Linked DNA regions of Homo sapiens. The protein of the gene in region 2 purifies or fractionates together with the protein of the main gene of each other region. This does not show direct contact. Each region holds a gene or a part of one and is shown on either strand. Other genes may lie near its edges.

Region 1 (4,518 bases), on a different chromosome or scaffold from region 2:
GGTCAAGGCTGTCATCAGCTGTGATTGTACCACTGCACTCTAGTCTGGGCACAAAGCGAGACCCTGTCTCAAAAAAAAAAAAAAAAAAAAAAAAAAAGATACTGTAACAAGATCTCATTATGGGCAAGAACTCCCAGGATTTTGAGGTGTCTGACGTATCGGGTATTCTATCTTTATGAAGGATAAGTTTAGATTCAGGCAAAAAGCGCCAGGCAGAGGGGCAATTCTTCTCCTGAACTTTTACTCACTAGCCTCCCGTGGCCATTTAGCTATTTTAAATTGGCAGGGTTTGGTCTATACTATCAATTTTGACTGATAAACGCTGGTGCTGCTGAAGAAGAAAACTGCCTCTAGAGAAGACATGACCCCCAGAGATCACAGCAGGCTGCTGCCACCTTGTGGTAGTTTGCTGCAAATGCGGGAGCAGCAAACCCTGCACGATTGCTCTCAAGGAAAACAATTCAATGTTATGTATAAAAAACACACTATGACTATTAAGACCATGTGTACGAAATGGCTAAGTTTATTCAACATCTCGGATATTCATCTGGATATTGGGTTTGTTTTGTGATACAATACATATTCACCTTAACTGGTGCTACTGCAAAGAAAGCTTTCTTGACCTGCATGACGTGCCTCAGAGCTTCTCTCCACCAATTGGAACCACCCAAAGCCTAGTCTAGACCAAAGTGCTCTGGAGAAAAAAAACAAAACAAAAAAACAGCAAACAGAAAACAGTTGTGCCCCCAAAAGTACTCAGAAGTCATATGTTATTTACAATTGGGTTTGTGTGGGATGGGAAGTAGGGCGGATGAGCCAGTGCTTTTGCAATGAAGATGCAATAGTCATTGTCCTCTCCCACTGTCTCCTCTTTCCTCACCCCATGGCAGCTTTCATGACCCATTCCCAAAGGGTCCACCGAGTCCTGAACTCAGCTTCATCACCAACATTCCTCGCCTTCAGTTGAATTCAACACTGTTAAGGGAGTAGAGGCAAAGACTTGGGTCAGGGAGAGGGTGGGAAACACAGAACAAACTCTCTCGGCACAACCCAAGTTCAGAGACGAGGCCTCCTCAGATGAGGAAGATGATGCCCTCAGACACCATGACCTGATTGTCATCCTGCATCTTGCTCAGAGCAGCCTGGATCTCAACTGAAGAGAAGGGCTCTTCGCTGTCCCGGTTGATGGATTCTGTGAGGCGATTCATGCCGATTGACTGCGCATGAGCTTCCCGGAACACATCCAAGAGGGCCACCTTGAATGCCTTCAACCTGCCCCAGACAGAAGAAAGGGGGAAGAGGAGTAAACAAACCCAAATGCTCTCAGGAAACAGCTATACTAGGAAAATCCATAGTATTAATACAGTAGAGGCGTCCCCTCAATATTCTTTCTCACACACACATCTGCCTCTGATGGCAGTGCTACCCTTGAGGAGCCCCCTTTAAAGCTAAACTATTGTACTAGCGTGTGGGAAATTGGCATTCCCATTCACTGTAAAATAGTAACCCGGTCAGCGTCAATGCGGGACAATTTAACAGCACTTACTAAACCCTTAAAAGCGTATATCCTTTGGCCCAGGGAGCCCATTTCTAGGAACTCACCTTATAGCTATACTTGCATGAGTGCACACTGATAAATTTAATACTGTTTTACTGTAAACAGGGAACAACCCAAATGTCTATCATCAGAGAATTTCATTAAATTTTTACCCATCCATACCATGGAAACCCTGCAGTCATTAAAAAGAATGAGATCAAACAAGCACAGTGGCTTATGCCTGTAATCCCAGCCTTTTGGGAGGCTCAGGTAGAAGGACTGCTTGAGGCCAGGAGTCCAAGACCAGCCTGGGCAACATGGTGAGATCCCGTCTCTACAAAAAGTAAAAAATAAACACTGTAAAAAAGTAAAAAATAAACACTGCACTCCGGTCTCAAAAAAAAAAGTGAGATCTATACGAGCTGATTCAAGCATTTTAAGATACAGTTGATGGTTGTCCTTGAGGGATAGAGTTACAATTGATTTTAATTTTTTTTCTAAATACTTTTCAATGTGTTTCAAATTTTTTTCAGTAAATACACTGTATTATGTGTTTAAAGTATAAAAAGAAAAAACGTAAAACTTGGCTATGGAGTTTCTTGGTGTCCAGTAAACAAAATTCATAGATAAAAATGTTTCCTAAAACCCTGGTGGTAAAAATTCTTCATTTCAAAAACAAATGGCCAAAATGTATCTATCCCACCAAGAAGAATCTGAGGTTACAGTAAGACATTAAGTTTTATCCTTATTGTAAAACTCTTCTCTCTCAGAAAGAGAGAATTATTAATTTAAACAACTGAAGATTCTGGGTAAAGGACATCCAGAAGTTCTTCATGCTTTTCTCATAACTTTTCAGTAAGTTTGAAATTAAATGAGAATATAAAATGTTAAAAGCTGCAGGCCTCTAGTTTTGAGTTCTATTGATGACCAGCAGTTTGTTTCCCACCCTCTCCAAGGGAACAAAGTCCCTTCCTCAGCGATACACAGAATTCTTGAAGGGGCAGGAGCAACATCCGTACTCACCTGGATTCACTCAACTCCACTTTCTGGGATTCCTTGGTCTCCTGTGAGTCTGCCGTCTTTGGAGTGTGTACTTCAGAGGGTTGATGGTTGTAGAGATGGGGAAGATAAGCAAGGTGAAGCCATTTCCACAAACACTAGAGAAATCATCTCCACTCCCAATCTCTCACTCAGCCTGCTGAACACTCCTATTTCCTAGGGTTCTTATGGGGCCAGGCAGAACAATTAGGATATAGGGAAATCTTCATTGGATGATGAAGGAATTTAGTCAGGCAGGAGACCCTCAATGTATATATTATCTGAAATGCTTATACCAGGTGAAACAGCACAGCACAGTTCATCAAGGAGGTGTATATAATATAGCAAAGCTTTTTCCAAAGTTTCCCCTGAAGCTCTCTTGGGACAAACCTCTTGGACATAGGCCCCAAGCAGGGAGCCAAACAAACAGGAGTCCACAAGAAAATAAAGTGCACAGAGCAACTGGAAAAGTCCAAGAGTCACAGGAACAACCTCTTTCATCAGTAAGTGGGCTCACTCACCTTGAGGCATTTCCTCCTCTGTGTCACTGAAGTCATAGGGGTCGTATGAATCCCCATCTTTGGCATCTGGCTGGCGAGTCTTCCTTCTAAAATACCCACAGCAGTTAAGAGAGAGAAAGAGTTTGGAGACAGAAAGGCAAGGAAGCCCCATCACGTGCCTCTAACTACGGAGAAAAGGAAACAGAACCACTAAGTCAAAGTGAAGCACTAGGCTTAGGCCTTTGCAAACTGCTGCTTGTTCCAAACGAGACCAAGTCCCCAGACTAGAACACAAACAGGCGCTGCTTCCCAACGCTCTTTTCCACATCACTCACCCTTATAAATTCAACTATAAGCATGAAGGTTTTTCCCTTAGAATTTTGAAGTATATATTCAAAACCCTCAGTGGTTGGGTTGCTGTTCCTACTATTTAGCATTTCTTCAGTAGAGGGGTCAAAAGCACACAAGAAGGACTCGCTCTCCTTCTCTTTTACCCAGGGTATCTTCTTTTTTTTTTTTTTTTGAGACGGACGGAGTCTCACTCTGTCACCCAGGCTGGAGTGCAGTGGTGTGATCTCCACTCACTGCAAGCTCTGCCTCCTGGGTTCACGCCATTCTCCTGCCTCAGCCTCCCAAGTAGCTGGGACTACAGGTGCCTGCCACCACGCCAGCCTAATTTTTTGTATTTTTAGTAGAGACAGGGTTTCACTGTTAGCCAGGATGGTCTTGATCTCCTGACCTCGTGATCCGCCTGCCTCGGCCTCCCAAAGTGCTGGGATTACAGGCGTGAGCCACCGCGCCCAGCCTACCCAGGTTATCTTCATCCTCAAACCCCGCAGGTCTAGGAACACTCTCCATGAACAACCTGACATCAATAAGCAGCGCTGGTTCCACCTTCTACCCTCTACTTCTCTCCCCAGTCCCACTGGAACTTACTACTTTTTTTTTTTTTTTTTGAGATGGGATCTCTCTCTGTCGCCCAGGCTGGAGTGCAGTGGCACGATCCTGGTTCACTGCAACCTCTGCCTCCCAGGCTCAAGCAATCCTCCGACCCCAGCCTACCGAGCAGCTGGGACCACAAGTGTCCGCCACCACGCCCAGCTAATTTTTCTATTTTTTGTAGAGACAGTTTTGCCATATTTCCCAGGCTGGTCTCAAACTCCTGGACTCAAGTGACCCACCCGCCTCGGCCTCCCAAATTGCTAAGATTACAGGCGTGCACCCCCAACTTCTTGGCCACTAACTTTTTAATCTCATTTGCTTGCCCCACCTTACCTCTTCCTCTTCTGCTCCTGGTCCTCTTGGCTTTTCTCCTCTTCATCTTCTGTCTCTGATTCATCCTCACTTCGCTTCTTACGTTTCTTCTCCTTCTCCAGAACCTAAGACCAAGGCAAGTGTGGCTGGGCTAGAGGGGTCACTGATGCAGGGGAACTGCATCAAGAA
Region 2 (7,290 bases):
ACATTCACAGAGTGCCCATTATCTGCTATCCATCGGTAATAGAAAGCAATAGTGAACAGCATATTTCCTTCCCTTTGAGGAGCTTTTACTCTAGTGGTGGAGACAGGAAGTAGAAAGGTAATTACACTAGAGTGTGGATAAAAGCTATAATGTGAGTGAGCATAAGATGTCATGGCAAAACTCCTGACCCATTTCCTGAGTTCAGAGGTTTGCCAAAAGCAGTGCTATCTCAAGAGGTCTACAGAATAAGCAGATGCTATGAGGATCAAATAAGACACATGGAAAAGCTTCATAAAATGCAAAGCACTATGTAAATAAAGCCTCTAATTTTTTCTCCTGAAAAGTAGGACAGCCAGGCGCAGTGGCTCACACCTGTAGTCCCAACACTTTGGGAAGCCTAGGCAGGTGGATCGCTTGAGGTCAGGAGTTCAAGACCAGCCTGGGCAACACAGCGAGACCCTGTGTCTACAAAAAATACAAAAATTAGCCAGGCATGGTGGTGTGTACCTGTAGTCCCAGCTACTTGGGAGGCCGAGGCAGAAGAATCGCTTGGGCACGGGAAGGAGAGGTTGCAGTGAGCTGAGATTCAGCCACTGCACTCCAGCTTAGGTAACAGAGCGAGACCCTGCTTAAAAAAATAAATAAATAAATAAATAATTAAAAAAAAGAAAAGCAGGAGAGTGAGTCAATACCCAAATCCTGCTTCTCCCAAGTCAGGGCTGTGAACCAGTCTTTGGTGTGGGTACTGAAAAGTCAAACAGGATGAACTGAGAGGCCCCTGAAGGTCATGCTCCATTAAAGAACTTACAATCAAACACACCAAAACTTAGGAGCATGGAGTCCAGCAGATCTGGATTTGAGTATTGAATTAGTATTACTAACAAGACTTTGGACAAGTTGCTTAACCACTTTGGGCACATGCGCTACTGTGAGGATTACATGAAAACGTCAGCACAGTGTCTGACACACAGTAAATGCTCAATAAATGATAGTACCTAGTATTACAGATAATACCACAGAGCTCTGAGTGCAAAAATACCCTTTAGCAAAGTCTCGTTGGTACTACTGCATCTTTCAAGTCCAGTTATGACAGAATTTTAAGCTGTAGCAACTAGAGTTATAGGAAGGTTCTGGTACAAAATCTTTTTTTTTTTTTTTTTTAAGACAGAATTTCACTCTTGTTGCCCAGGCTGGAGTGCAATGGCGTGATCTCGGCTCACTGCAACCTCTGCCACCTGGGTTCAAGCGATTCTCCTGCCTCAGCCTCCCAAGTACCTGGGATTACAGGTGTGTGCCACCACGCCAGGCTAATTTTTGTTTGTTTGTTTGTTTTTTGAGACGGAGTCTTGCTCTGTTGCCCAGGCTGGAGTGCAATGGCATGATCTTGGCTCACTGCAACCTCCGCCTCCCGGGTTCAAGTGATTCTCCCACTTCAGCCTCCCAAGAAGCTGGGATTACAGGTGCGCATGACCATGCCTGGCTAATTTTTGTATTTTTAGTAGAGACAGGGTTTCACCATGTTGGCCAGGCTGGTCGTGAACTCCTGACCTCAAGTGATCTGCCCGCCTCAGCCTCCCAAAGTGCTGGGATTACAGGCATGAGCCACCGCGCCTGGCCCAAAATCTGTTTATACAAAGCAAAGTCTCTGTGTTTCCAGGATACAAATTCCTTGGAGTTTGCATTTTGTCCCAGGGTTTTTTTTATTTTAATGTGAACCAATAATTTTATTTTTCAGAGATAGGGTCTTGGTCTCACCCAGACTGGAGTGCAATGTCTCAATCACAGCTCACTGCATCCTCAAACTCCTAAGTTCCAGTGATCCTCGTGCTTCAGCCTCCTGAGCAGCTGGGACTACAGGTATGTGCCACCATGCTGGTGAATTGTTTTTGTTTTTTGTTGAGACAGAGTCTTGCTCTGTGGCCCAGACTGGAGTGCAGTGGCATGATCTTGGCCTACTGCAACCTCTGCCTCATGGGTTCAAGCAATTCTCGTGCCTCAGCTTCCCAAATAGCTGGGACTACAGGTGCGTGCCATCACACCCAGCTAATTTTTGTATTTTTAGTAGAGAAGGAGTTTTGTCATGTTGCCCAGGCTGGTCTCAAACTCCTGGCCTCAAATGATCCACCCACTGTGGCCTCCCAAAGTGCTGGGATTACAGGCATGAGCCACTGTGCCCAGCCTGTCCTAGGCTTTTCACTGATTCCACTTTGGGTTCATGGACAACTGTCACAATCCCAACTTTATGGATCTGGAGACCGACACGACCAGCTTGAGCTTATTCCAATAATAACCAATACAGGACTAGATTCCAGACTTTCTAAAGTTCAATTTAAGGCTCTCTTTGTGTTGCTGTTGAGACAGAGTCTCACTGTGTCACCCAGTCTGGAGTGCAGTGACATGATCTTGGCTCACTGCAATCTCCACCTCCTGGATTCAAGCGATTCTGTCTCAGCCTTCTGAGTAGCTGGGATTACAGGTGTGCATCAACACGCCTGGCTAATTTTTGTATTTTTAGTAGAGACGGGGTTTCACCATGTTGGCCAGGCTGGTCTTGAACCCCTGACCTCAAGTAATCTGCCCACCTTGGCCTCCTCAAGCGCGGGGATTACAGGTGTGCGCCACCATGCCTGGCCGCAATTTAAGGCTCTTTCCACCTCACCACAATGCTTTCAAGGTATAACCAGAAAATGCTATAGCATAATTATTAGACTCTAAAATTATGAATCCCCAGGGTTTTTGTACTTGGCATGTGGTAGGTGTTCAATAAATGTTTCCTGACTGAACTAAAATATTTATGGCAGATCAGAGATTATTCTAATGGGAGAAGGAAACTGTAGTAGACTCACACTGGCCAACACCCACAAACCTCTTGCTGTCGTAGTTCAGAGCACGTTTAACAGATGAACTTAAGCTGTACAAACTGTGAGAAGAAAGAGCCCCCCTTCCTTGACTCTCCCTTACAGCTCTTTCTACATTGTGGGGCTGCCCAGTACCTGCACCACCAGGTTCCCACGGCTCCGACAGAATCGCTCCAACATTTTGAGGAAGAGGTGGGTGGTCTCCACCAGGTCACGAAGGAAAGAGCGGGGCTGGCATCTCTCATCAAACTTTCGAAAAAGTGCCAGGAATAGTTCTCGGTACTCCATCACATAGAAAATATTGTCTAGGAATGGGGAAGAGAAAGGGATGGAAGGGCTATTCTGGAAAGCTTGAAAAGGAGAGATGGATGAAGCTGGGACTGGGAAGAATGAGATTCTCATCACGAGATGGGACAGGCTGGGATCGGGGACCAGGCCAGGGCCTCACTCTTGATGATGCGGCTGCTCTCCCTCACAGCCTCATCTGGAGATATGTCCATCTCATTCACTGTTGCCAGCAGCTCCTGATAGGCCTTCAGAGCCAAGTGCATCCTGAGAGTTGACGGGAAACGGTGAAATGGAGGACAGCTTAGGGCAATGGCCCATGGAAACAGCAACTTCCCACAGCGAAAAAAAAAAATGTGCCACCCAAACTAAATTTCCCAGCCAGTCCTTGCTCCCCAGACTGATCACCTGAACCCTGAATCAGGAAAAAAGCACCAGCCAGAATTCAAGCATTCAGATCCCTAGCTCACTGTATCTCCAGTAACCATCCCACTCACCGGCGTGCCCAGGAGGCAGCTTCCTTGCGGTCAGTCAGCATCATCTCATAGTAGTTGGTGAGGTTCTGCTCAATGAAGTGGAAGGTACGGACACTGAGGGTCTCAGAAACCAGGCCTGGCCGGAAGGAGGCAGCTCGGTTGAAGGCCATGAAGAAAGCCAAGGCCCACATATAATAGGTCTCATCATGCTGCTGAGCTTTCTCCCGAAGCAGGTGATCCTGACATTTAAAAAAGAAAAAAAAAGATCACCATGACTCCAGGGCTTCCAACTTCTTCCTTCCTGTCCTATGATGATGGAATGGATGCTGGACACCGTCATAATTTTTTTTTTTTTGAGGCGGAGTCTCACTCTATTGCCCAGGCTGGAGTGCAATGGCATGATCTCGGCTCACCGCAACTTCCACCTCCTGGGTTCAAGCGATTCTCCTGCCTCAGCCTCCTGGGTAGCTGGGATTATAGGTGCCCGCCACCACGCCCAGTTAATTTTTTGTATTTTCAGTAGAGATGGGGTTTCACCATGTTGCAGGCTGGTCTCAAACTCCTGACCTCAGGTGATCCACCTGCCTTGGACTCCCAAAGTGCTGGTATTACAGGCGTGAGCCACTGCGCCTGGTCTTTTTTTTTTTTTTTTTTTTTTTTGACAGTCTTGCACTGTCATGATGAGGCTGGAGTGCACTGGTCTGATCTCGGCTCACTGCAACCTCTGCCTCCCAGGTTCAAGTGATTATCCTGCCTCAGGCTCCTGAGTAACTGGGACTACAAATGCACACCACCATGCCGGCTAATTTTTTTTTTTTTTTGTATTTTTTTTTTTAGTAGAGATACGGTTTCACCATATTGGCCAGGTTGGTCTTGAACTCCTGACCTCAAGTGATCCACTGCCTCAGCCTCTCAAAGCGCTGGGATTACAGGTGTGAGCCACCACGCCGGGACACCGCTATAATACTCTAGGATCCACAATTTCCAACTCTCTCCTGTTCTCCCTTTCCTCTCCCTCTGAGGCAATTTTTCCAGAGCCTCTTTTGTCATGCCAGGAGCCCACTCGTTCCTGGCATTTTCACTATCTCTCAGGGACATCCTAACTGTATATCCTTCCCACCTACGAGTCCACATTCCAGGGGCAGCCTCCCCGAGCTCCTCCCCACTTCTTACCCACCAACAGCTGCATCATCACCTGTCTATTCCATTCCTGATTATCTCCATATCCTTCACAGGTTCTCACCTTTACTGATCCCATGAGCCGGTTGTAACAGTTCTCCAGGAACTCAGAGCAGAAGTCTCTGAGGAAGAGCCTCACATTGAGGGCAGAACGGCGCTGAATGGACAGCTCTCGGGCGGCCTGGCGACGTTTAGGCACCTTTTTCGGCTGCTTTCCCAAATCTGAACTGTAGTTTCGTAGCTGGGTGTGTCGGTTGGGGGATTAGAATTACTCCTAAATACCACTTTCCCCTTGCAGCTCTCGTCAATTTTCTCAGAAGAAACTAATTTTTGTTTTTCTTTTGAGACAAGAACTTGCTCTGTCACCCAGGCTGGAGTGTAATGATGCAATCATAGCACACTGGAGCCTTGAACTCCTGGGCTCAAGGAATCCTCCCACCTCAGCCTCCCGAGTAGTCAGGACCACAGGCGGGTGCCACCATGCTCAGTTAGTATTTTTCACTTGTTGTAGGGACAGGGTTTTGCCATGTTGCCCAGGCTGGTCTCGAACTCCTGGGCTCAAGCAATTCTCCTTCCTTAGCTTCTCAAAGTGTTAAGATTACAGGCATGAGCCATTGTACCCAACCTTTAATTTAATTTTTTTTTTAGAGACAGGGTCTTGCCATGTTGCCCAGTCTGATCTTGAACTTCTGGGCTCAAGCAATCCTCCTGCCTCAGCCTCCCAAAGTGCTGGGACCACAAGTGTGAGCCACCAGGCACAGCCAAGAACTCTTAAGATGATTACCCTGCTTAAGCTATGCAACTCCACTATGTTCCCACTCCAGATGTAAGAATACTCACGTTGTGAAGGCCTTTGTGAAAGATGAGGTCCCTCTCCCCAATGGATTTCAACCCCTGGACAATATAGGAGCCCCCAAATCGAGAATGCCTGCAGAAACAAAAAGGTCCAAGGTGATTTTTCAGTTCTCTGGAAACTTTATCTCCATTCTCTATCATCGGCACATTGGAGCAAGTTAAAACTACAAAATGTTGGTCGGGCACGGTGGCTCACGCCTATAATCCCAGCACTTTGGGAGGCTGAGGCAGGCGGATCACCTGAGGTCGGGAGTTTGAGACCAGCCTGGCCAACATGGTGAAACCCTGTCTCTACTAAAAATACAAAAATTAGCCTGGCATGGTGGCATGCGCCTGTAGTCCCAGCTACTGGGGAGGCTGAGGCAGGAGAATCGCTTGAACCCAGGAGACAGAGGTTGCAGTGAGCAGAGATCGTGCCAGTGCACTCCAGCCTGGGCGACAAGAGCAAAATTCTGTCTCAAAAAAAAAAAAAAAAAACACTAAAATGTTGTTCAATCACCCCACCTTAGAATTTGCCTTCTATGCCCTCAGCATTCCATGATGTAGGAAAAAGAACCTGCCTCTCTGTCACTCACCTGTTGCCTCGCTGGAGGGCTCGAGTCTTCTTTTCTGCCATCTCTCGCTGGCGCAACACCTCCAGTTCTGCAAAATCTGCACTCCGCTCCTGAGCTAAGCGTCCCTGCCCTACTCCCGCCAGCTGCTCGGGGTTCTAGATTGGAACAAAGAGGGAAGAATCAGGAGGACAGTCATTCCTTATCCTGAGTTCACGCCTACTGGGGATGCAAAGAGTGAACAAAATAGAACCCCATTAATGGGGCATTGTGCTGTCGTTCTCCCTTATCTGAGGGGGAAATGTTCTAAGACACCCACTGGATGCCTGAAACTGCAGACAGTACTGAAATATATATATGTATATATTCATATATACATATATATATTTGTATGTGTATACACATATACATAGAACATGTACGTTCTATGTTTTATAGAATGTATATATGTGCTATATATATAGTTATCAGAAAACAGAACATGTATACATATATATATACGCACATACACATATTCTATTATGTTTTTTCAATTTGATAACTAAGATGGCTAGTACATGACTAACAGGCGGGTATACACTGTGGATATGCTGGGCAGAGGGATGATTCACATCTTGTTTAGGACAAACAGGGACAAAAGATTTCATCACACTACTCAGAACAATGTACAAGTTTAAAACTTCTAAAATGTTTATTTCTGAAATTTTCCACTTAATATTTTCAGACCATGGTTGACTGTGAGTAACTGAAATCAAGGAAAGAAAACCATGAATAAGGGGGTACTACTGAACTCAAGACATGGCTACTCCTGCTGTCGCCTGCCTTCCCCAGATAATGCAGCCATTATCACAAGAGCAATTCTGGCTGTACAGCAGAAAAGTACATGGGCGGAGGGGACTCGGGCAATAGGCCAGGGTCTCACCTGGTCACGAAACATAAGGGAGACAATCTCTAGCACATGTAGGCTCCATTGCTCCTCAGCAGACGAGCTGGCCAGAAAGAGGAGCAGGTCATCCAGGCCGCTGAGGTGAATCGCCCAGAGGAGCTGGTCATGGGCACTGGCGTCATCATCAATCTTCTGAGCAG

What was found.
Region 1: the proteins of TIMELESS (region 2) and MCM3 purify together in Homo sapiens (affinity purification with mass spectrometry; 3 studies listed by BioGRID and IntAct, with this or other methods). This does not show direct contact.

The regions. Positions count from the first base shown.
Region 1 is NC_000006.12:52,263,515-52,268,032, forward strand, and holds the end of MCM3 (DNA replication licensing factor MCM3), read right to left. Parts: intron 4,493-4,518; exon of another isoform or gene 4,455-4,492; coding exon 4,351-4,454; intron 3,183-4,350; coding exon 3,097-3,182; intron 2,631-3,096; coding exon 2,561-2,630; intron 1,895-2,560; exon of another isoform or gene 1,872-1,894; coding exon of another isoform or gene 1,721-1,871; intron 1,273-1,720; coding exon 1,074-1,272; 3' UTR 501-1,073; downstream 1-500. UniProt on the Homo sapiens protein: Acts as a component of the MCM2-7 complex (MCM complex) which is the replicative helicase essential for 'once per cell cycle' DNA replication initiation and elongation in eukaryotic cells.
Region 2 is NC_000012.12:56,425,243-56,432,532, forward strand, and holds part of TIMELESS (protein timeless homolog), read right to left. Parts: intron 7,283-7,290; coding exon 7,127-7,282; intron 6,363-7,126; coding exon 6,229-6,362; intron 5,727-6,228; coding exon 5,639-5,726; intron 5,040-5,638; coding exon 4,863-5,039; intron 3,859-4,862; coding exon 3,641-3,858; intron 3,411-3,640; coding exon 3,307-3,410; intron 3,164-3,306; coding exon 2,994-3,163; intron 1-2,993. UniProt on the Homo sapiens protein: Plays an important role in the control of DNA replication, maintenance of replication fork stability, maintenance of genome stability throughout normal DNA replication, DNA repair and in the regulation of the circadian clock.